Linked DNA regions of Homo sapiens. The protein of the gene in region 5 interacts with the protein of the main gene of each other region in a pairwise test. Each region holds a gene or a part of one and is shown on either strand. Other genes may lie near its edges.

Evidence for each region.
Region 1: the proteins of SPANXN3 (region 5) and PTGES3L-AARSD1 interact in binary tests that used the Homo sapiens proteins (3 or more experiments, as listed by UniProt).
Region 2: the proteins of SPANXN3 (region 5) and ZNF76 interact in binary tests that used the Homo sapiens proteins (3 or more experiments, as listed by UniProt).
Region 3: the proteins of SPANXN3 (region 5) and FAM217B interact in binary tests that used the Homo sapiens proteins (3 or more experiments, as listed by UniProt).
Region 4: the proteins of SPANXN3 (region 5) and ZNF143 interact in binary tests that used the Homo sapiens proteins (3 or more experiments, as listed by UniProt).
Region 6: the proteins of SPANXN3 (region 5) and MEOX2 interact in a two-hybrid assay, tested with the Homo sapiens proteins (one large-scale study listed by BioGRID).
Region 7: the proteins of SPANXN3 (region 5) and SDCBP interact in binary tests that used the Homo sapiens proteins (3 or more experiments, as listed by UniProt).

What each region holds. Positions count from the first base shown.
Region 1 is NC_000017.11:42,960,029-42,963,528, reverse strand, and holds part of PTGES3L-AARSD1 (PTGES3L-AARSD1 protein), read left to right. Parts: intron 1-2,177; coding exon 2,178-2,337; intron 2,338-3,500. Other genes in the region: alanyl-tRNA editing protein Aarsd1, read left to right, coding at 2,178-2,337. UniProt on the Homo sapiens protein: Functions in trans to edit the amino acid moiety from incorrectly charged tRNA(Ala).
Region 2 is NC_000006.12:35,276,735-35,280,234, forward strand, and holds part of ZNF76 (zinc finger protein 76), read left to right. Parts: intron 1-3,500. UniProt on the Homo sapiens protein: May be involved in transcriptional regulation.
Region 3 is NC_000020.11:59,938,964-59,943,188, reverse strand, and holds the start of FAM217B (protein FAM217B), read right to left. Parts: upstream 2,801-4,225; 5' UTR 2,654-2,800; intron 992-2,653; 5' UTR 880-991; intron 763-879; 5' UTR 677-762; intron 1-676. Other genes in the region: PPP1R3D (protein phosphatase 1 regulatory subunit 3D), read left to right, coding at 3,258-4,157.
Region 4 is NC_000011.10:9,464,012-9,467,511, reverse strand, and holds part of ZNF143 (zinc finger protein 143), read right to left. Parts: intron 1-3,500. UniProt on the Homo sapiens protein: Transcriptional activator. Activates the gene for selenocysteine tRNA (tRNAsec). Binds to the SPH motif of small nuclear RNA (snRNA) gene promoters. Participates in efficient U6 RNA polymerase III transcription via its interaction with CHD8.
Region 5 is NC_000023.11:143,508,235-143,511,355, forward strand, and holds the end of SPANXN3 (sperm protein associated with the nucleus on the X chromosome N3), read right to left. Parts: intron 929-3,121; coding exon 581-928; 3' UTR 501-580; downstream 1-500.
Region 6 is NC_000007.14:15,620,684-15,624,183, forward strand, and holds part of MEOX2 (homeobox protein MOX-2), read right to left. Parts: intron 1-3,500. UniProt on the Homo sapiens protein: Mesodermal transcription factor that plays a key role in somitogenesis and somitogenesis and limb muscle differentiation. Required during limb development for normal appendicular muscle formation and for the normal regulation of myogenic genes.
Region 7 is NC_000008.11:58,559,761-58,563,260, reverse strand, and holds part of SDCBP (syntenin-1), read right to left. Parts: intron 2,978-3,500; exon of another isoform or gene 1,514-2,977; coding exon of another isoform or gene 1,466-1,513; intron 1-1,465. UniProt on the Homo sapiens protein: Multifunctional adapter protein involved in diverse array of functions including trafficking of transmembrane proteins, neuro and immunomodulation, exosome biogenesis, and tumorigenesis.

The DNA.
Region 1 (3,500 bases), on a different chromosome or scaffold from region 5:
GGTACAACATGAGCGCAAGTGAGGTACATTGTGAAGATGGAAGAGGAGGATAATAACACCAAAGGTGGGCATTATGAGAAAGGCTTTTCTTTCTTTTCTTTTCTTTCTTTCTTTCTTTTTTTTTTTGAGACAGAATCTCTCGCTGTCATCAGGCTGAAGTGCAGTGGCATGATCTCAGCTCTGCAACCTCCGCCTCCTGGGTTCAAGTGATTCTCCTGTCTCAGCCTCCCAAGTAGCCTGACCAACATGATGAAACCTTGTCTCTACTAAAAATATAAAAATTAACCAGGCATACTGGCAGGCCCCTGTAGTCCCAGCTACTCGGGAGGCTGAGGCATGAGAATCACTTGAACCGGGAGGCTGAAGTTGCAGTGAGCCAAGATTGTGCCACTGCACTTCAGCGTGGGGGACAGAACAAGACTCCGTCTCAAAAGAAAAAAAAAAGGTGTATTAAGGTGTGTGGGCAGCGAACCATGCAGGTTATTTTCTTTCTTTTTTATTTTTAAGAGACAGGATCTTGCTATGTCACCCAGGCTGGAGTGCAGTGGCCTGATCTAGCTCACTGCAGCCTCGAACTCCCAGGCTCAAGCAATCCTCCTGTTTTAGCCTCTCCAGTAGTGGGGACTACAGGCGCACAACCAACATGCTTGGCTGCTTTTTTGTAGAGATGAGGTCTCACTTTATTGCCCAGGCTGATCTTGAGCTCCTGGCCTCAAACAGTCCTCCCACCTTGGCCTCCCAAAGGCTGGGCCTACAGGTGTGAGCCACTGCCCTGGCCTCCACTCAGGTTCTTAAGCAAATAAGTGACATGAGAGAACATGTTCAGTAGACTTGGTATTGAGAGAGTTCCAATTTCATATCAGTCATTATTATGGTGATTTTCCCAGTATGAAGATTTCCCTGATCTGCTGAAGGAAAACCTGTGACCTCAAGTATCCATAGAAGGTCTCATTTTAGACAGCATTTCTTTCAGGAAGTCTTTTTTTGATTCCCCAAGACTGTTAGGTCTCTTTCCTTTGAGGTTCTCTAGCGTCATATACTTTTTCATATTATGGCATGTTATAGGTCATATTGCAATTGTCTGTTTTCCAGCCTCTGTTCTCTAGACTCTTAAGTTCCATGAGGTACCATATCTTGTTTACATTGTATTCTTGGGCTGGCACAGTCTTTTGTAAGCAGTTGGCACTTGAAATGTTTTAAAATGAATGAACTTTTTTTTTTTTTTTTTTTGAGATGGTGTCTTGCTCTGTTGCCAGGCTGGAGCGCAGCGGCGTGATCTCGGCTTACTGCAATCTCCGTCTGCCAGGTTCAAGCAATTCCCCTGCCTCAGTCTCCCGAGTAGCTAGGACTACAGGTGTGCACCACCATGCCCAGTTAATTTTTTGTATTTTAGTAGAGACGGGGTTTCACCATGTTGGCCAGGATGGTCTTGATCTCCTGACCTTGTGATCCGCCCACCTCGGCCTTCCAAAGTACTGGGATTACAGGTGTGAGCCACTGTACCTGGCCCTTTTTTTTTTTTAAATGAGACAGTGTCTCACTCTGTCACCCAGGCTGGAGTGTAGTGGAGCAATCATAGCACACTGCAGTCTCAACCTTTTGGGCTCAAGTGATTCTCCCACCTCAGCCTCCCAAGTAGCAGGGAGTATCATGGCCAGCTAATTTTTTATTTTTCATAGAGGTGGGGTCTCACTGTGTTGTCCAGTCTGATCTCAAGCGATCCTCCTGCCTTGGTCTCCCAAAGTGGTGGGATTACAGGAATAAGCTACCATGCCCAGCCTAAATGAACATTTTTGAATCTAATTCTAATACCACTGCAAGAGGATGGAGTGGAGGGAGGGAGGAAAAATCAGATCATTTTAGAGACTACAAAAGAATCTAGACTAAGGCAAGGAGAGTTGAGGATTAAGATTCTTCGGGTTTTACTAAAATTTTTGTTGCTGTAGTTACAATCTCTTTAATTCTGTTATTCTGAAGATCACAACACATAGGTGTTTAGAATGAAAAGGACTGAGAATCCTCTCATGGAACAAAGTGGACTCATTTCACTTGGCATTGCTTTCTCCCTCTCCCTTAGGGAGCCCAGATTCTGGGTCTCTCACCCTAGAGGGTCTTTGTACCTAGAAGTTAGGGTGAGCCCTGCCTTGCCATTGATTACGTTTACTTATTTCCACCAGCCTGATGACCGTGGTACAATCAATGACATCTCTGTGCTGAGAGTGACTCGCCGTGGGGAACAGGCTGATCATTTCACCCAGACACCCCTGGATCCAGGAAGCCAGGTTCTGGTCCGGGTAGATTGGGAGCGGAGGTTTGACCACATGCAGCAGCATTCAGGTAAAGGCTGGGATGGGGGACATAACACCGGAGCAGTTGCCATGTATGGGGATGCTGTGATGACTGAGACGTAGTTTGGGTTCTCTAGGAGTTAACCTTTTGGAAAAGACAGACTATTCAGAATCAGCTGTAATTCAGGAAGGATATCCTAAATGTTATAACAGCAACATGAACAACTGAAGTAAAAAAAAGTATTAGAATAACTGCTGGATTTAGGTATTATCAACTTCCCACTCGATATCTCCATCTGGATGTCTCACAGCCTTTTCAAACTCAAAATGTCCAAAATGAAACAAAAAGCCTTCCCCTCCCTCCTGGTCTTTCATTAGCATCCTGTGTGTTCATCGCAGGGCATCAGCATGCACCTAGTCACTCAAGTTCTGGAAGTCATTCCAGATACCTCTTCAGGCATAGACAGCCAGCCAATCACTGAGTCCTGTTGGTTTCTTTTCTTTTTTTTTTTTTTTTTTGACACAGAGTTTCGCTCTGTCACCCAGGCTGGAGTGCAATGGTGCGATCTCGGCTCACTGCAACCTCTGCCTCTCGGGTTCAAGCGATTCTCCTGCCTCAGCCTCCCGAGTAGCTGGGATTATAGGCCCCCACCACCATGCCCAGCTAATTTTGTATTTTTAATAGAGACGGTGTTTCACCATATTGGTCAGGCTGGTCTTGAACTCCTGACCTCAGATGATCCGCCTGCCTTGACCCCGCAAAGTACAGGCATGAGCCACACCCCCCCAGCATGTTGGTTTGTTTTCTAAATGTCTGTCCACTTCTTTCCACAGTCACTGTCATCCTAGTCCCAGCTCCTAGCTGTCTTCCCCCTGGACCTCTCTAACAGTTTCCTAATTGATTGCCCCACATTCAGTCTGGCTCCTCTGTAGCCCATTCTCCACATAGCACCAGAACAGTCTTTTTTTTTTTGAGTTGGAGTCTCGCTCTGTCGCCCAGGCTGGAGTGCAATGGCATGATCTCGGCTCACTGCAACCTCACCTCCCGGGCTCAAGTGATCCTCTTGCCTTGGCCTCCCGAGTAGCTGGGATAACAGGTGCGTGCCACCATGCCTGGCTAATTTTTGTATTTTTAGTAGAGACGGTGTTTCACCATGTTGGCCAGGCTGGTCTCGAACTCCAGACCTCGTGATCCGCCCGCCTCGGCTTCTC
Region 2 (3,500 bases), on a different chromosome or scaffold from region 5:
CAATCCCTTTTCAACCTATGTCTGCTTTGTTTTTATTTTTATTTATTTATTTATGGGTTTTTTTTTTTTTTTTTTTTTGAGACAAGAGTTTTGCTGTTGTTGCCCAGGCTAGAGTGCAGTGATGCAATTTTGGCTCACTGCAACCTCCGCCTCCTGGGTCCAAGCAATTCTCCTGCCTCAGCCTCCCAAGTAGCTAGGCATGTGCTACCACACCTGGCTAATTTTTGTATTTTTTTTTTTTTTTAGCAGAGGCGGGGTTTCACCATGTTGGTCAGGCTGGTCTCGAACTCCTGATCTCAAGTGATCCGCCCACTTCGGCCTCCCAAAGTGCTGGGATTACAGGCATGAGCCACCGTGCCCAGCCTGCTTTGTTTTTAGACCTGGTTTCTCTTATGTGTCTTCTGACACAGTGCAGTTACACTAAAGCGGGTTACCCAAAGAATCTACCTGATGAAGAGAGTGAAGCTTGAAGGTCAGAGCAGACCAAGAGAGGCCAGGAGCAGAGCTCTTGTGAGACAGGGACCACGTGGAGGTTATCAGGGCTCTGGGCAAGGATGCTAATAGACCAGAGATGTCAGATGTCAGAATCCCCACCTTGACCAGTGGTTCTTCACCATTAATCCCTATCAGACCCTGATGACAGCCTTGGATTTCCCTCTCTCCTGGAAAATGCAAAGGCTCACACACCAAAAAAGTATTTTGGAGTAGCTTCAAGTTTCATAAACCCCCAGCTTCACCTCTGTGCTTCGCAGCATAGTAATTAAGGTCACACTCTGGATTAAATGGCCTAGGGTGAAATCCTCCTTTACTAGTTAGCTGTGTAACCTTGAGCAAGTTACTTAACTTGGTCTTGGGCCTCCAGTTCCCTCACTTTTAAATGAGGATAATCATAGCATTTGATTGTAGGATTGTTAGAACTAAATGAGTTAATGTATGTGACATTCCTAGCACGTGGTTAACTCTATAGTAGTGTTCACTATATAATAGTATTGCTGCCCTTGCACCTTAGCCCATTTAGTAAATGTTTATGGACAGAATGAATGAATAATTCTAGTTGAGATGCCATGCCTGGGGTAGAGCATTCCAATCAGCGTGTCGCAGTTGGTCTATAGGTTTTTTTGGGTTTTTCGTTTGTTTGTTTTTGAGACGGAGTCTCACTCTGTCGCCCAGGCTGGAGTGCAGTGGTGCAGTCTTGGCTCACTGCAAGCTCCGCCTCCCAGGTTTATGCCATTCTTCTGCCTTAGCCTCCCGAGTAGCTGGAACTACAGGCGCCCTCCACGCCCGGCTAATTTTTTGTATTTTTAGTAGAGACAGGGTTTCACCCTGTTAGTCAGGATGGTCTGGATCTCCTGACCTTGTGATCTGCCCGCCTCAACTTCTCAAAGTGCTGGGATTACAGGTGTGAGCCACCACGCCCAGCCAGTTTTTGTTTTGTTTTTTTCTTTTTTTTTGAGACGGAGTTTCGCTGTTGTTGCCCAGGCTGGAGTGCAATGACACGATCTCGGCTCACCGCAACCTCTGCCTCCCAGGTTCAAGCAATTCTCCTGCCTCAGCCTCCCAAGTAGCTGGGATTACAGGCATGTGCCACCATGCCCAGCTAATTTTGTATTTTTAGTAGAGACGGGGCTTCTCCATGTTAGTCAGGCTGGTCTCGAACTCCTGGATGGTCTATAATTTTGCCAAGATATTGATCCGCTCGCCCCTCAGGGCTGTCAAAGCCCCAGTTGGTCGCTTCTGGCTTGAAGCAGTGACATCTGCAATGTGAACTTCTGACTTTAAGCAGCAGCATCTGCAATGCAATGTACAAATATCTGTCTCTCTAGGTCCCCTGACATGAAAACAGTTTGGGTAGCACCAGTCAAAGATATCGGTTGGTAAGTCGTGAGAATCCAGTAGGCAGTCCAGATTCCAAGTCCAGGAGAATTTTGAGAATGGATGTCAAAGAGAGTCTTCACGACTGCACTGAGTTTAGAGGCCGTGGGCTTCCTGCAGGCTTCACAAGTGTTGGGGTCCACTGCTAGAGCAGGCTGCACACCACAGTGGGTACAGAAGATATCCTGCCAGCAGGAAGCTTCAGTGCTTCCCACCTTGCACATGAGGGACCCAGGGAGTCACTCACAGGATGTGTGGAGAGCCCACAGTGTGAGTTGCTGGAGAAACCACTGTGACGCAGAAACCAGGCTAGAGCCCAAAGCCTTGTGTAGGCAACGGACATTAAACAGATAGTGATGAGTACTGAAGTAGGTTGAGCCCAGAGGTGTGAGTGCTAGGAAAAGGTGGTACCTAGGCTGTGGGAGTTTATAACAACCCAGCCTTGTATGCAAGGTGGACTCTAAGAGCTGTAGGAAACTATGGAAGGGTTTTAGTCAAGGAAGTGGTATGTTTAGATTTGTACTCTTTTTTTCTTATAAATCTACTTTTATTTATTTACTTTTCATTAGCTTAAGTCCTTGAGGGGCACAGCGTCACACAGATTCTGTGTTCAATAGCTTTAGCAAGATTGCTTGGGAATTTAGCACAAACCATGCCACTGTTTCCATGGGCCTGAGTTTACCTTTCCCCAGATTATGCTGGTTTTCTTCAGTTTGCTGCCAGCAGTCAGTGTGTTGTTCTTTGCTTTATACATGTAAGTACATCTCTTGCCTAAATAGAATTAGTTTCATTTCGAGCATAAATACCTTCAATTTTTTTTTTTTTTTTTTTTTTTTTTTGGGACGGAGTCTCGCTCTGTCGCCCAGGCTGGAGTGCAGTGGCGCGATCTTGGCTCATTGCAAGCTCCACCTCCCAGGTTCATGCCATTCTCCTGCCTCAGCCTCCCAAGTAGCTGGGACTACAGGTGCCCACCACCACGCCCGGCTAATTTTTTGTATTTTTAGTAGAGATGGGTTTTCACCATGTTAGCCAGGATGGTCTCAATCTCCTGACCTCGTGATCCACTGTCCTCGGCCTCCCAAAGTGCTGGGATTACAGTCGTGAGCCACCGCACTTGGCCAATACCTCAATTTTAATAAGAGCTGTGTCCTCGCTTTGGTTCTGGAGGCCCCACTTACAGCTAGCAAAAAATGGCCTTGGACTACAGCCTTCCAAATGTATTGTATTTATCTTATTATTATTTTTGAGACAGAGTCTCTTTATCACCCAGGCTGGAATTCAGTGGTATGATCAAAGCTTACTGCAGTTTCAAATTCCTGGGGTCAGGCAGTGCTCCCACCTCAGCCTCTTGTGTAGCTAGGATTGCAGGCATGTGCCACTACACCTGGCTAATTTTTTTTTTTTTGTAGAGACAATGTCTTGCTGTGTTGCCCACATTGGTCTTGAACTCCTAGCCTCAAATAATCCTCCTGCCTCAGCCTCCCAAAGCACTGGGATTACAGGCATGAGCCACTACACCCCGCCCATATTTGCCTTTTGGAAGTCCTGTTCTCAGCAGGCCTCTACAGGCTCCAAGATAGTGGGAAGAGAGCTTTTTTTTTAAATTCACCCTGACAGCATAAACATGA
Region 3 (4,225 bases), on a different chromosome or scaffold from region 5:
TCTGGCATAATTTATTCTGATGCTGAATCTCACATCAGAGTTGAAAATATCCTCTTTTCAATTTATTTACCAAGAACGTGGCATTTAAGATTAATAATACTTCTCTGTAATATAAGTCAGATAGAATGAATAGAAATGGGTGGTAAACATGCTTTCTGGAAACTTCAGAGGTTCATTTGCCCAGTGGTTTCAAACAACCTAAGCAACTATTTGAATACGTGCTACATTTTAATTAATAAATATGCAGGACATTAAATCATTGCCAATAGTACAACGTGTGCTCAATAAATGTTGAATAAATGAAGAAATGAAGGAATCTCCATTATTCAGAATTCATAACACTGTTAAAACATTTTGTTCCTGCCTGTCAGTATGCATCCATAAAAATTAATTATTGTCACTATCCTTTTATATAAAAGGAAACTAACATAGAAAAGTGATTAAAGGACTTACTCAAAATTATAATTCTGCTAACAACTGCCAGAATTATGACCGTTGGAATCCTTATCCACTATTATGCTTAAACCACTTTTCTATTCATTTCTGCTAGAAAAAAATTATAAATGTATATTTCTTATCTATAGACATACTTTTTTCCCCACTCCACATATTCAATCTGGACAACAGAGATAATGAGTCTTTTGCAAGATAAAGCAATTATACTAAAACTATTTACCTGCTTTTCTGATGAGATTCATTCACCCTATTCCTCTTCTTGAAAAAATCACGTGGCTGATCATCATCTCGGGTTTGATGGACTGTCTAAAAACAGGGATGCAGTAATAAACACTGTGAACATGTACACAAGAAACAAGCAAGCAAACAAACAAAAATCCCAGAATAAATCTAAGTCAGATTTTTCTTCTAAGTTTACATTACCTTTCCTGTAGTGCTCAAAATATTCTTGCTCAATCTGCTGGAAGATGATGACAGCTGGGGAGGTGACTTCTTTATTCCTCTTATATTTGGAAAGGTCTCCTCACCACCGGAACTAGAAGCAACAGAATACTGTCAGTAACTATTGATTGCAAATGGTCCTACCACCAGTATCGGGTTGGTTTTTCACTTGTTTTTTAATACTTGTATAATATTGAAATATTAAGGCTGTGATCATATAGTGGTTTGCACTCTAGGTTATGAAATACTGGGGAAGGGAGACATTGTCTTATGCTTACAGCTTTGTCTTTTCTGCTTATTACAGTAGATATTAGAGACAGGATCACAGGATCACACTACTATAAATACTGTGAATGGATTCCATCTCTCTCTCTCTCTCCCTGTTCACACACAGGTATAATCTTCCTTGGAAATAATATGTTGAAGAAATCTGGAAGGCTAAATAAGGTCAGGTCTTATTACAGCGTTCAATCATTGCATTGCCCAATCATTCATTCATGCAACAAATAATTACAGGAGTACCCAGAAAAATGGCAATGATTATGCACGTCCCTGTTCAGAAGGAGCTTAAACTCTAGGAGGAACGTTCCCATTCAATTTTTCGGCCTTCTCTATCACATCAATCCATTATAAGACTTTCCATATATTCATACATATTACATATTATATATCATCTCTTTATGAAGCATTGTTGACCTATACCACATATTGCTGTTATTCCCCTCTCATTTTGAGTGGCCTATTAAAAGTGCACTGAATGGAAATTGGATACTTCTCTTTCCCGTATCACCTGTCTCTGTAAAATAAAAGAGATGATTATAGAAGATTTTTATTTTCTTCCTGAAACTTTCCTGTATTTTTCCCACATTAATCATGTAAGCCTTTTTAGTTAGCTTACATCCAATGATAAATAAAATCATTCTCTCACATTTCATGAATTATACCACAATCAACAGCCTTGACTCATTTTAGATGCAACGAATGTTCTTGAATCAACCCCCTTTCATTAGTCTGGTTTTCTTTCTGCTTTGTCCCTCTGGACAATAAAAAGGAACCTTCTTAATGGAATGGCTGGCCCCAAACTGCTCTCTGGAAAGTGCACTTGCATCTTTTCTACTTCATTTCACCTGGTATGCTTTACACCAAAGGCTGTGGGGTTTTGTGCTCAAAGCTACCGGGTGAGAGACACGAATGCCTGCAGGGTTCTAAATAGGCAGAAAACAAGCTCCAGGCCTTGCTGGTGTTTCTGGCTTGCTTGGAAACAAAGCTAAAAGTCGGAGATTCTGGCTACAAATATGCTCCCCAAGCGCCAGAGGCTGATTAAGGGCAGCTGCAGAAGTCATCAGCGGGTAATAACTCTTGTTCCCCTGTCTTCCTCTCTGGCGCGGAGTCCAGGAAGACAACAGCAGCACCTCCCCTCCCCACCCTCAAGGGAATCTGCTGGCCATTCGGTGCGGCAAAGCATTCTGGGTGATGTGGACATGACGCTGCTCCTCTACGCAGTGAGGCTCCCTCGGTCTGACCAAGGGTCCAGGTTGCAGTGAACCTGTCCAAAGTGTGGGCTGGCCTCGATGTTTAAAATTAGCCTGAGACCAGCTCCTGGCAAGGCCGGTTTTTGCACCACCGCTCCCCCCATCCACAACCCAGAAATCTAAGGACACGCAGCATGCATTTTCCTTGTCCTCCGTTTGTGCAGACAAAGTCTATGATCGATAGGCGCGCAATCCAGGCAGACGTAAACAGAAATTGATCAGACCTGTTTCGCGACTGCAGCGGACACGTGACGAGGCTGCCAGCCTTCCTTCCTCTCCGGCGCCCGCGCGGGGACGCCCGGCTGCGGCGCGCTGCGGCAGGGGAGCTGGAGGCGGAGGCGCGCAGCTCCGCTGAGCTCCCTGGCTGAGCTGAGGCCGGCGGGGGCCCGCCTGCAGGCGGCGTCACGAGGGGCGGGGCGGAGGCTCGCTAGGAAGTTGCACCCGGTCAAGTTGCAGCCTTGTAAGTAACGCCGCGGACCGGGAAAGTGGGAGGGGCCGCTCCCGGAACGCAGCCTTCTTGTAAGAACCTCCAAGGAAGCAAGAAGAAAAAAGAGGCGCTACCCTGCGCTCCCGGGAGGCCTCTGAAAGCTTCCACTAGAGAAAAACTCCCCACTCTTACAATTTCTTTAACCGCAAGAAGCGGAGGACCTGGACAAGGACTCGAGGAGCAAGGTGGCGAACCAAGGGTAGGGCGCACCGGGCCCGAGAGGTCCCCCGCAGGTTGCAGATACGGTGGACTCTCTGCGGCTTCTGAGCACGGAGGGAGCTGTCGCGGGGTCGGGAGGTCGTCTCTCATCCCTGCCTCATCTTCCGACGGCCGGCGGGGCCATGTCCAGAGGCCCGAGCTCCGCGGTCCTGCCTAGCGCCCTGGGATCCCGGAAGCTCGGCCCCCGGAGCCTCAGCTGCCTGTCGGACCTGGACGGCGGCGTGGCCCTGGAGCCGCGGGCCTGTAGGCCCCCTGGGAGCCCGGGCCGCGCGCCGCCGCCAACGCCAGCGCCGTCGGGCTGCGACCCCCGCCTGCGGCCCATCATCCTGCGGCGGGCGCGCTCACTGCCCAGCTCCCCCGAGCGCCGCCAGAAGGCCGCGGGCGCGCCGGGCGCTGCGTGTCGGCCGGGCTGCAGCCAGAAGCTCCGCGTGCGCTTCGCCGACGCCCTGGGCTTGGAGCTGGCACAGGTCAAGGTGTTCAACGCGGGAGACGACCCGTCCGTGCCGCTGCACGTGCTGTCGCGGCTCGCAATCAACTCGGACCTGTGCTGCAGCAGCCAGGACCTGGAGTTCACCCTGCATTGCCTGGTGCCCGATTTCCCGCCGCCCGTCGAGGCCGCCGACTTTGGCGAGCGCCTGCAGCGGCAGCTCGTGTGCCTGGAGCGTGTCACTTGCTCGGACCTTGGCATCAGCGGTACGGTGCGCGTGTGCAACGTGGCCTTCGAGAAGCAGGTGGCTGTGCGCTACACTTTCTCGGGCTGGCGCAGTACCCACGAGGCGGTGGCGCGGTGGCGCGGGCCCGCAGGCCCCGAGGGCACGGAGGACGTTTTCACCTTCGGCTTTCCAGTACCGCCCTTCCTGCTGGAGCTCGGCTCCCGCGTGCACTTCGCGGTGCGCTACCAAGTGGCGGGTGCCGAGTACTGGGACAACAACGACCACCGAGACTACAGCCTCACATGTCGCAACCACGCGCTGCACATGCCTCGCGGGGAGTGCGAAGAGAGCTGGATCCACTTCATCTGAGCCGCGCGGGGACCGGCCACCTGGAGCCTCCACACCTAAGCTGCGCCTCCTGTCATTTCCCTGCTGGG
Region 4 (3,500 bases), on a different chromosome or scaffold from region 5:
ATAATCCCAGCACTTTGAAAGGCTGAGGCGGGTGGATCACCTGAAGTCAGGAGTTTGAGAACAGCCCGGACAACATGACAAAACCCTGTCTCTACTAAAAATATAAGAAAATCAGCCGGGTATGGTGGCGGGTGCCTATAATCCCAGCTACTCCCAGCTGAGGCAGGAGAATCACTTGAACCCGGAGGGTGGAGGCAGCAGTGAGCCAAGATGGTGCCACTGCACTCCAGCCTGAGCTACAGAGTAAAACTCTATCTCAAAAAAAAAAAAAAAACACTTTCCTTTTTCATCCCCTCACTTAAGAGTATTACACATAGTTGGCCAGGGCGCAGTGGCTCACTCCTGTAATCCCAGCACTTTGGGAGGCCAAGGCGGGTGGATCACGAGGTCAGGAGATTGAGAGCATCCTGGCTAACACGGTGAAACCCCGTCTCTACTAAAAAATACAAAAAATTAACCAGGCGGTGGCATGCACCTGTAGTCCCAGCTACTCCGGAGGCTGAGGCAGGAGAATGGCGTGAACCCGGGAGGCAGAGCTTGCAGTGAGCCGAGATCGCGCCACTGCACTCCAGCCTGGGTGACACAGAGAGACTCTGTGTCAAAAAAACACACACACACACACAAAAAAAAACCAGAGTATTACTCTATTGTAATATTTAAAAGTATTACAATAATATCTTTACTGCTCTCTGCACCATATTCTCATCGTTTCAGTCTAAAAACAGTCAGCTATTTTATTGTGTTTTGTAGACCATTAAAATTTTCCTTGCAGGCTGGGCATGATGGCTCACACCTGTAACTGCAGCACTTGGGGAGGCCAAGGAGGGAAGACGGCTTGAGGCCAGGAGTTCAAGACCAGCCTGGGCAACACAGTGAAACCCTGTCTCTACGGAAAATAAAAAAAAGGAAAAAATTATGCCGGGAGTGGTGGCTCACATCTGTAATCCCAGCACTTTGGGAGGCTGAGGTGGGTGGATCACCTGAGGTCAGGAGTTCGAGACCACCCTGGCCAACATGGTGAAACCCAGTCACTACTAAAAATACAAAAATTAGCCAGGCGTGGTGGCAGACGCCTGTAATCCCAGCTACTAGGGAGGCTGAAGCAGGAGAATCGCTTGAATCCGGGAGACGTAGGTTGCAGTGAGCCGAGATCACATCATTGCACTCCAGCCTGGGCAACAAGAGCAAGACTCCATCTCAAAAAAAAAGAAAAGAAAAGAAAAAAATTAGGCTGCGCATGGTGGCTCACGTCTGTAATCCCAGCACTCTGGGAGGCTGAGATGGGTGGATCACCTAAGGTCAGGAGTTCAAGACCAGCCTGGCCAACATGGTGAAACCCTGTCTCTACTAAAAATACAAAAATTAGCCAGATGTGGTGGCAGGTGCCTGTAATCCCAGATACTCAGGATGCTGAGGAAGGAGAATCACTTGAGCCTGGGAGCTGGAGGTTGCAGTGAGCCGAGATCTAGCCACTGCACTCCAGCCTGGGTGAACTCCCTCTCAAAAAAAAAAAAAATTAGCCAGACATGGTAGCTTGGACCTGTAATACCAAGCCACTTGGGAGGCTGAGGAGAAGGGAGGATCACTTGGGCCTGGGAGGTAGAGGCTGCAGTGAGCTGTGATTGTGCCACTGTACTCCTGCCTGGGAAACAGAGAGAAATCCTCCCAAAAGCAAAAAAAGAAAACAAACAAACAAACAAAAAACAAAAAACTTTTCCTTGCATACAATATTGTAATATAAATTTAAAACTTATAATAATAAGTCCTTTGGGAGGCCAAGACGGGCAGATTATGAGGTCAGGTGAAACCCCGTCTCTACCAAAAATACAAAAAAAAAAAAAAAAATTAGCCAGGCGTGGTGGCGGGCGCCTATAGTCCCAGCTACTAGGGAGGCTGAGGCAGGAGAATGGTGTGAACCTGGGAGGCAGAGCTTGCAGAGAGCCGAGATCACGCCACTGCACTCCAGCCTGGGCGACAGAGTGAGACTCCATTTCAGAAAAAATAAATAAATAAATAAATAAAAGTACCAGCCAGGCACGGTGGCTTGCACCTGTAATCCCAGCACTCTGGGAGCCAAGGCAGGCGGATCACAAGGTCAGGAGTTCAAGACCAGCCTGGCCAACATGGTGAAACCCCGTCTCTACTAAAAATAAAAAAATTAGCTGGGCATGGTGGCGTGCTTCTGTAATCCCAGCTACTTGGGAGGCTGAGGCAGGGGAATCACTTGAACCCGGGAGGCGGAGGTTGCAGTGAGCTGAGATCGCACCACTGCACTCCAGCCTGGGTGACAGAGTAAGACTCCGTCTCAAAACAAATAAAATAAATAAAAAAAATAGTAAGTCCCAATAGCTTAACAAATCAAACATTTTCAGTTTTCCTGGTTTTATTCTCTAGCCCTTGCTATCCACATACATACAAAATTTTTACAGCATTGTAATTATCATATACATAACATTTTGTATTCAGCTTTTTTTATTCCTATAAATTTTCCTAAGTTGTCAAAAATTCTTCACAATGATCACTTTTAATTCACATTTAACAAATTAATTACCCTTATAGGCCATTTAGCATTATTATTATTTTTTTTTTGAGACAGAGTCTCCCTCTGTCGCCCAGGCTGGAATACAGTGACGCGATCTCGTCTCACTGCAACCTCTGCCTCCTGGGTTCAAGCAATTCCCCTGCCTCAGCCTCCTGAGTAGCTGGGATTACAGGTGCCCGCCACCATGCCCAGCTAATTTTTTGTATTTTTTTAGTAGAGACGGGATTTCACCATGTTGGTCGGGCTCATCTTGAACTCCTGACCTCGTGATCCACCCACCTCGGCCTCCCAAAGTGCTGGGATTACAGGCGTGAGCATTATTCTTATTATGTAATTAACACACACCATTGATTGATTGATTGATTGATTGAGACAGGGTCTTGTTCTGTCCCCCAGGCTGGAGTGCAGTGGTGCAATCTCAGCTCACTGCAACCTCCACCTCCCAGGTTCAAGAGATTCTCCTGCCTCAGCCTCCCGAGTAGCTGGGATTAAAGGCATGGGCCACCCCACCTGGCTAATTTTTGTATTTTTAGTAGAGACAGGGTTTCACCATGTTGGCCAGGCTGGTCTCAAATTCCTGACCTCAGGAGATCCACCTGCCTCAGCCTCCCAAAGTACTGGGATTATAGGCGTGAGCCACCACGCCTGGCCTACAAACGTTTTTCTAAAAATTAGCTGGGCATTGTGGCGTGCACCTGTAGTCCTAGCTACTCTGGAGTCTGAGGTGGGAGGATCACTTGTGCCAGGGAGGTTGAGGCTGCAGTGAGCTGAGATCATGCCACTGCACTCCAGTCTGGGTGAGAGTGAGACCCTGTCTCTTAAAAAAAATGGATTTTTAATATCTATACACAAATACACACACACACACACACACACACACACAAACACACACACACGACATCCCTAAATGAAACATGTAGGCATTTAAAAGAATGAGATCTATCTATCTGAAACAGTG
Region 5 (3,121 bases):
GCAACTTCCACCTCCTGGGTTCAAGCGATTCTCCTGCCTTGGCCTTCAAGTAGCTGGGATTACAGGTGCCTGACACCATGCCTGGCTAATTTTTATATATTTTTTAGTAGAGACAGGGGTTCACCATGTTGGCCCATGCTGGTCTCAAACTCCTGACCTCAGGTGACTGCCAGTCTCAGCCTCCCAAAGTGCTGGGATTAGAGGCATGAGCCACCATGCCCAGCGAATACAGATCTTTTTGTACACCCTTCTACACAATCACATGCTCCAAGAAACACCATGTCCTTTTCTTCCTCTCCTGTAAGACAAAATTTTAAGAAGAAAATTTGTCTGAGGAATCAGTCCTCCGCCAGTCCTTATTTGCAATGTCTGGCTAACTGTCAACCTGTGGGTCCGTCTCCCAACCTACAGGACCTCATATCCCTCCCTTCTCAAATGCCTACCTCTTCCCTTCCCTTCCCCACCCCACACCAGACAACAGGCAGAGATAAACACAGTCATCAGCTCCTTAAACTTGATTTTATTGTAATCATCGCCATCAGTGGTGATGATTTGTCCAATTTGGTTTCTCCATGTGTGACTAATCCTCCCCACTGTCCTGTGAAGATCCTTCAGATAAGCCTAGGTCTTCATCCTCCTGTGAGGATCCTTCAGATGAGTCTAGATCTTTGTCCTCCTTTGAAGGTCCTTCACATGGGCCTAGGTCTTCATCCTCATTTGAAGATCCTTCAGATAAGTCTACGCCTTCGTCCTCCTCCTTTTGGATTGGATTGATGGAGTTCTCTTGGGACTGTTCATTCTCCAGTTGATTTGAATTTATTTTCTTACCCTTCCTGAGGTAATACACAAATATTATTGGATATTCTGATGTTTTTGTGTTCTTCAAACTCTGTTCGGGGGCTAAGACTCTGTTTGGTACCTCTTGCATCTGGTAAGAAAATAGGGAGAGGCCAGAAAGACATTATTTTGGGTGAATAGGATAGAGACTAGATAGCAAGGGGGGCTTTATGAGAAGGAATGCAGGTGGAGGAAGGGGTGTGTGCCAGAGAAGAACAAGGTGAAATCATAGGGTAGGTATCTATGCAGAAGAAGAAGAGGAGCATGGGTAGAGTCACCTGTTAGTCCAAACTGCATGATTTTGTAAGTTTTTGCTATGTTGCAGACCTTGGTCAAAGTGAAACATTCCATGGGGGTTCAGGCCATGAGCAACATCCTGCCTAACCACCTGACCACAAGGTGGACAAAGGCTCAACTAAAGAAACATCCCTATCATAAGTCCTGTTCCCCTTATTCTTTCATCTTCTCCAGCCCTGGGCTAACCTCCAGATATTGATTAAACTCTCCATCTTATTTTTCCTTCATTCCCCTTTCCAGGCAGCTGCAAAGGAACACCACAATGATATTCCACTGGAAAAAGGGCCAAACCACCTGATCATAAGAACATCTTATCAATATCCTCCTGGGCAGCAAGCCATACTGCCCAGCTCCCTCCCACCCATACCTGTAAGTACCCCAGGCTATAAGCGGCAGTGGGCTCTGGCATTAAGCTGGTCCCCCACTTCCACAGGTGTCTGCAATATTCCTGTGTTGTTGTTTGAGATGCACCCTCTCTGTCTGTCTTTCTTTCACCCTCATCTTCCCTTCAAAACCTAACACTTTGGTGCCAAAACCCAGGACGGTGATTGGGTTCTAATGGGTAAGTTTTCTCTTGCAACCTGGAAAGCAGAAAGCAGCAAGCAGCACAAACTAGACCGGGGCCTACTTCCAGATCCTGAGTGGACTGTCTGTTCCCAGTCCTGTTTCCCCTATTCTCTCATCTTCTCCAGCCCTGGACTAACCTCCAGATATTGATCAAACTCTCCATCTTATTTTTCCTTCCTTCCCCTTCCCAAGCAGCTGCAACCAGGATCACCCCCATTGCTGGACATCACATCCAACACTGGGCTTCAATTCGTGGGTGAGTCTCCCTATTCTTCCTTTCTGGATTCCTTTCTATTTCTGCTTGTTCTCCAAAAAAATTCCAGTGCTGGGTGAGAGGTCTCCCCAGTCACCAGGTGACTGCAGCCTCCCTTCTCAGGGGACAGCCTCAGAACACTTGCCATTCTGGCCGCTCCGTCCTCTGGGGAGCATGAATAGCTATGGGGCTGTCCCAACTCTCCAGGTCCCTTCTCCCAGGTGGAATCCAGTACTCACTTTCCTCTGGGGTATTCACTTCCCTCTGGAGAACTCACTCCCCTCTGGGGTATTCACTCCCTTCTGGGGTACTCACTTTCCCCAGAGTATTCACTCCCATCCAGAGTATTCACTCCCCTCTTCTAAAAAACAAAACATTCAACTTTCAAATTCAACATCATCTAAAAATCTTTCTCCAACACAATGGTAAATGATCTGAAGTGCTTTGCTTATCTCCGCTCATGCCTCACTCACTCTCCTGCCAATCTTGTTCACCTTTTCAAATCTTCCTCCTCAAGGAGAAACCCCCCAAAATGCCTCCTCCTCGGGACAAGCCTTCCTCCTCTGAATTTCAACCTGGCCAACAAACCCCTTCGTCTGGCTCCTGCCCTCTCCCATTCCCTCCACCTTCTCCTTCGGATCCGGCTCCTCCACCCCCTTACTGTCACCCTCCATCCCCCTTCCTTCTCCACCTCAAACCAGGTCTCACGCCCAACGCTCTTTTGCCGAAAACCAGACACATGCCCAAAGGCCTTCCAAAGTCTTTCCCTTGCAGGAGGTTGCAAGGACTGAAGGCATAATCTGAATTCAAGTTCCCTAGCTGACTTCTCCCATACTGAAAAGAGACTTTGCTCCTTTTCAATGGATCCTACCTCCTTCCTCAAGGAATGTCTGTACTTCCCTAAATCTTATGACCTTACCTGGCATGACATATATGTCATCCTCTCCTCTACCCTCACCCTGGAGGACAGGGAACACATATTTACGGGTGCCCAGGTCCATGAGAACACCCTCCACCAACAAGATGCTGCTCATAACCCAGTAGGGACCCTAGCTGTCCCCAGAACTGACCTCAATCGGAATTATCAGGCAACTTCTGTAGACAGGCAGAAACCAGGCCATATGATATCATGCCTTCTAGCTGGCATAAATAAAGTCGCCCCTGCTC
Region 6 (3,500 bases), on a different chromosome or scaffold from region 5:
ATACTTGGCATTGGGCCATTTGATGATTTATGAGTAAAAAACAAAACATAATCCCTCTCATTTCCACCAATGGAGTATGATCTCGTTAGGTGGGATTTTCCATTTATCTTGGCAGAAGTATCATTAATTTAGTCTGTTTATTCCAGTAATCTTAACTAGTTTACAAGTCTACAACATTACACCTTTGATTAGCTCTGTGAAAAAGATGTTTTGAAGTGAAAGGATCTCCCATTCTGTCTATATTTGGCAGCCTTAACTCTATAAAAATGTCCATTTTACCACTTCTTTTATATGCTCCTGCAGCTGCTTTCTCTCGTCTTCCCACTGTGAGATATTAAAAATCTGGTGGGAGTTTTCTCCAAGTTTATCTGGATGGAGAAAAAAACGCCAGAATAAGCTTGTCCAAATTAAAAATACCTTGAAACTGGAGAGCCTTTAGACTGAGTTCTCTGCAAATCATTCGGGGTGACTCTGACAATTGAAGATTATTATCTGTTGATCTTGAAGGTTATATGAGAATATGTTGTAAACTAGAAGCTGTAAGTTAGAAGCTAGAAGATTTACTGGAGTGATCTGTAACTGTTCAACAAACAACATTATATAATTAAAATATTTGAAGCTCAGCTTCATTCTAGTTTCTGCATTTTTATTTAACATAAAATGATTTTCTTTAACACTTGTGTGCTAACATGGAATTACTTTGCAGAATGAGCCTCTTTTTTTCCTTCTTTGGCCAGATGAAGTTCAAACAGAATTATAGACTACCCTGACATTGCATTATGGAAGATGCAAATGTAAGAGTGTGACATCTTTGTGTGATTCCATGACTATTCTTCAGAATGGAATTTGGAAATTCAAGTCCTGAGTGATATTTAAGGATTTAATATACCTTATGTTTTTCTAAAAGGAAACCTAATTATTATTGCAAATCTTCATGACACATATATGAGTCATCATAAAATTTGTGTTGGATATACTGATCGGTGATATAAGTAAGGTAGGGGTAGCCACAAATAACATCAGTGATAGACATGCACATTTTATTGTCAATCATGTACAATTTCCACATGACAATATGTCTAAAGACTAGTTCTGATTGTAAAGTAAGTTTTCATTTAGGAGAAAATTATTTCTCAAAAACAATTCTGTTACAGGCCAGGTGCCATGGCTCAAGCCCGTAATCTCAGCACTTTGGGAGGCCGAGGCTGGTGGATCACGAGGTCAGGAGTTCAAGACCAGCCTGGCCAAGATGGTGAAACCCCGTCCCTACTAAAAATACAAAAAATTAGCCGGGCATGGTAGCAGGTGCCTGTAATCCCAGCTACCAGAGAGACTGAGGAAGAGAATTGCTTGAACCCAGGAGGCGGAGGTTGCAGTGAGCCGAGACTGCACCACTGCACTCCAGCCTTGGTGACAGAGCGAGACTCTGTCTCAAAAAACAAACACACAAACAAAAGCAATCTTATTATATAATTTAATATTTGTTTTCCCTGTTTGCATGATATCTTTCTTTTGATGTAGATAGATATACATATAGTTAGAAGTATGGAGATGTGTATATATTTATATGCATACACATACATATATATCTGTGTATATGTGTGTGTATGTGTTTGCATATGTGTATATTTACACACACACACATAAAATGAGCCTATGAGTCCTGTCTCTGCTTTTGAATCACACACCCATATAAAATGAGCCTATAAGTCCTGTCTTTGCATTTGAATTTCAAAAGACCTTGACAATGTTAAGGAAACTATTTTATATTCAAATAATTCTATTAAAGCTAAGGAAAATATTGAACAATATGAGGTTAGATGTAATATTCCTTGGTGTATATGTTTATTTTACTGAATCTCAGGTTATTTTAACATATGAAAAAAATAAGTCTTAAAGAATGAATATGAAAAGACAACATATCTATAATTAGATATTTTACATGTGGAAATCCTAGGGAAGGATGTTGTTTAAGATTATATAGGGTCAAGATATAGATTACATGGCTAAACATAGCATTTATGAGATTAATATAAAATCTAAGTAATGGAATAGCCATGCTATGGTCTAAATATTTATGTCTCCTCCAAATTCTTATGTTAAAATCCTAACCCTCAAGGTGACGGCATTAGGAGATGGGGCCCTTGGAATGAGATTAGGTCGTAAGAACAGATCTAGCATTACTCAGATTAGTGCCCTTATTAAAGAGGTCCCAGAGAGCTACCTAGCCTCTTCAGCCATCATATCAAGGTAGAATGGAAAAATGGAAGTCTATGAAGAAGTGTGTGCTCACCAGACACCGAATCTGCTGATGCCTTGATCTTGGACTTCCCATCCTCCAGAACTGTGAGAAATAAATGTGTGTTGTTTATAAGCCACCCAGTCTATGGTATTTCATTATAGCAGCCCCAATAGACTACAAGCTGCATTGCAAATTACAGAAGATGGATTTTAAAGTGTTCTGTTTGTAATTCTGTTAATAACTTTAAAACCCCAACCTCCAGAAAATAAACTGAAAATATTTCACTGGGATGAGAGCCCTGGCATTTTGAAAGAATATGCCATCTGACCTTCAAGAATAGCAAAGTTGACAACTGACATCATAGTATATTTTTTCTGATAAATTCAGCACAGTAAAATTCAGCCCAGAAAATACAATATAACTTAAAATAGACACATAATTTAAGTATGTGATTTTTTTTTATATACAGAGTCTCACTTTGTCACCCAGGCAGGAGTGCAGTGGTGCAAACTCAACTCACTGCAACTTCTGCCTCCCAGGCTTAAATGTTTCTCCTGCCTCAGCCTCCCATGTACCTAGGATTATAGGTGCCTGCCACCACGCCTGGCTCATTTTTGTATTTGTAGTAGAGACGGGGTTTCACCATGTTGGCCAGGCTGGTCTTGAACCCCTGACCTCAAGTGACCTGCCTGCCTTGGCTTCCCAAAGTGCTGGGACAAGTACAGGCTTGAGCTACCACTCCCAGCTTGATTGTTAATTTAAGATATTTTGTGCACAGATTCTTAATTTAAGAAACTTAAGATAATATGTGTGCATAGAAATGTTGGAATGAAATGGTGCAACCAGAAACATTATCCAATACAATTACATCATTCCTCTCCTGTGACATTCTACACTCATAACAATTGTGAATATTTGTTCAATTTTTACCTCTTCTATGAATTCTAACAGGTATTTCTTTAGCTTAAGATTTTACTTCCAGCACTTAGCTCAACAAATATTTGTGTTACAAAATGATTAATTCAACATGCTTTGCATAGCAAAGGTTTTTCCCACCTGGGTGATAATTCTGTTTTATAGTTTACACTAAAAATTATTTCATACCCATTATGATATACAAATCTACATAGAAGAAAGAGCAGGTTTTAATTTCCATTTTATGCCTTGGGGAGATTGTTACTTACTTAAGAACACACAATTCTAATCAGCAAACCTTGGATTTTTATTCAGATTTTTTTCATAACAATTAAATTCTTTT
Region 7 (3,500 bases), on a different chromosome or scaffold from region 5:
TTCATTTTCATAGCAGAATAATATTCCATTGTATGTATACCACATTATATTTATGCTGTCATCAGCTGATGACATTTGGGTTATTTGCACTTTTGGCTATTATAAATAATGCTGTTAAAAATGCCAATGAGCATTTGCATTGTTAGCAAATAATATGTAAGTTTATATACTTTTTTAATAAATGCATCTTTAATTCTCTTGGAATATAGCTAAGCATGCAACTGCTGGGTCATATGGTAACTCTAATACCATCCCCTTGATGATTACAGGATTCAACATATGAATGGAGGGACACAGTCACAAACATTCAGACCATATCATAGACCACTATCATATATGATTTACAAATACTTTTCTTATTCTGTAGATTGTCTTTTCATTTTTTCTCACAGTGCATTTTGCAATATGAGGTTTTTAATTCTGACAAATTTGAATCTATATTTCTTCTTGGTTGCTTATGCTTTAGATATAACATCTAAGAAACTACTGCCCAACTCAAGGTTATGAAGACTTACCCTTATGTTTTCTTCAAAAAATGTTATGTCTTTAATTCCTGCATTTATATCTTTGATCTATTTTATGTTAATTTTGTACACGGTGTGTGGTATAGATCCATATTCATTATTATCCATGTGGAAACCCAGTTATTTCAGCACCATTTTTTGAAAATAACATTTTTGAATTGTCTTCGCATCGTTATTGAAAAGTGATCATAACTGTATGCACTTATTTCTGCAATCTCAATTCTATTTCACTGATCTATATGTCTATCCTTATACCAGTACCACACATTCTTGAGTACTGTACATTTGTATTAAGTTTTAAAATCAGTTAATGTGAATCCTCCCACTTTGTTCTTTTTCGAAATTGTTTTGGCTATTCTAAATCCCTATCAATTCAGTATCAGTTTTAGAATCAGTATATCCATTTCTGTAAAAAAATAAAAAGTATCCTTAAATCTGAAGTGAGTCTCTTATAAACTGGGTATAGCTGGCTCTTGGTTTTATTTTTTTAATCCATTCATCCCCTCTATGTCTTTTGATTGGAGAGTTTAGTACATTTAAAGTTATTACTGATAGGGAAGGACTTACAATGACATTTTGTTAATGATTTTCTATCTTGAAACTTTTTTGTCCTTCCTTTCCTCTCTTGCCATCATGCTTTTTGTTTCACTGTTTTTTTTTTTAATAGATATGCTTTGATTCCTTATTTGTGTGTGTGTATTTTCTATAGGTATTTTCTTTGTGGTTACCATGGAGTTTACATAAAACATCTTCTAATAAACCTATTTTAAGCTGATAATTTCAACTGCATACAATACTGCTTCTTCTCATCCATCCCCATACTGCATTACTGATGCTACAAATTTCATCTTTTATGTTGTGCATCTATTAATATTTTTATAGTTACAGGCACTTAAACTTTTGTCTTAGACTTATATATCAGAAATAAGTGATTTACTCACCACCATTACAATAATATGCAGGTCTCTATTTGTCCATAGCTTTATCATTTAATTTTATACTTTCATGTTGAACATACTTTTGTTTCCATTTAACAGACTCCCATTGGCGTTTAAGTCAGATATAGTGGTGATGAACTCTCTCAGATTTTGAGAATCTTATTTCTCTTTTACTTTTAAAGAAAAGTTTTGCCACATACAGTACTTTGCTGGCAGTTTTTCTTCCAGCAGTTTGACTATATCATCCCACTTCTTTCTGACCTGCAAGGTTTCTGCTAAGAAATCCACTTAGAGTCCCACAGAATCTCCTTTGTATATGACAAGTTGTTCTTATCCTGCTGCTTTCAAAATTCTTTGACAATTTGATTACAGTGTGTTTCCATGTAGATGTCTTCGGATTGTTCTACTCTGGAGTCCATTTGGCTTCTTGAATCTGGATGTCCACTGCCTTCCTTCAGTTTGGGAAGTTTTGGCCAGTATTTCTTCAAATAAGCTTTTTGCTCCTTTCTCTTTCCAACATATGGAACTTCCATACAATCTACATTGATAAAATTGATGCTGTCCCATTAGTACTCTAGGCTGTCTTCATTCTTTTTTTATTTTTTTTCTTTTTGCTTCTCTGACTGGATAATTTCAAATGACCTGGCTTCAAGTTCACTAATTCTTCTCCTTGAAAAACACTGCTGCTAAACTCCTCTAGTAAATCTTTCAATTTGGTCAAAGAAGCATATTGCATCTGTTACAATGTTTGTTTGGTTCCTTTTTACGTTTTCAATCTCTATGTTGATACCATTTTGTTCATGCAGCATTTTCCTTGGGTCACTGAACATGTTTATGGTGGTTAGTCTGAATTCCTTCTGAGATAATGAAGATATCTGTGTTTCCTTAAAGTAGGTTCCTGGATATTTTGACTCTTTGATTGTGCCATGTTTCCCTATTTCTTTGTGTGTCTTTTAACATCATGTTGGGATCCAAGCATTTGAAAAAATATCACCCCTCCCAGTCTTTGTGGTCTGGCTCTGTACAGAGAAAGATCCTCACTGATCGGCCTGACTAGAGATTCTGCATGCCTTTTGAACCTTTCCTGAGGATGCTTCTTCTCGACCAGTGTGTATAAATTCTCAAGATGAACTTGTTCGTTTCCTTTTTCAGGATCTCATAATCTTTTGCTCCCTGTGCTATCTGTCTGTGGTACTTCAGGTTCTCTGGAGCTGCTGCAAGCCACCCAGCTCTCTTGTTTTCAGAGGCCTCCAACCTGGTGCCCTTTCCCATCAGTGGGCTTTTAGAGTATGTCCACTCCTGCCTGTGCTCCAAGTCAGGTGAAACAGAAGCCAGTCCCTTGGGGGTAGCTCTCTGAAGTGCTGGAATGTTGGACACATACTCCACTATTCTCTCTCCAACACCTTTCATGCCACACGTAGGGACAAGCTGCTGAGCTGTATCATCCTCTGTCTGCCCTACCATAGGTCCTCTAGAGCAGCAACAAGTCTTCTGTTCTCAGTGGCTCCTGGGCACCTGGAATACACCAGCCCCTGTCAGCTTTCCAAGACAAGCAAGACAGAAGCCAGTCCCTCAGCCCACTGAAAAGGTGAAACACTGGACACACATTCCAACTCTTTTGTCTCCCCAAGGAGAAGCCAAGAGTTGAGGATTTTCTCCTGCTGGTTTCATGCTGAGGGAGGGGGAGGGACCATGGTGAGTGCCTGCTAATCTAAACTGTCAACTTTGTTTTCAATGACCCCGCAACCTGGTGCCCTTTCCTGTCAGAACTTATATTCAAGCAAAATAAAAACCAGACCCTTGGGCAGACCTCTGAAAAATCTGAATGTCACACAGATGTTTCAGTCTTCTCTTTCCCCGCCCAGGGAAAAACCAGGAGCCTGGAGTTTCCTCTTGCTCATGCCATGCTGAGCCAGGGGAATGAACTATGGTGAGCAAGTAGGATGAATTTTCCTACCATCTTCACTGCAGCTGGTTTACTGCTCACCTAGAATGCAGGAGCCTCTTAACTAGTTTCCGGATTTCTCACAAAGAGGTC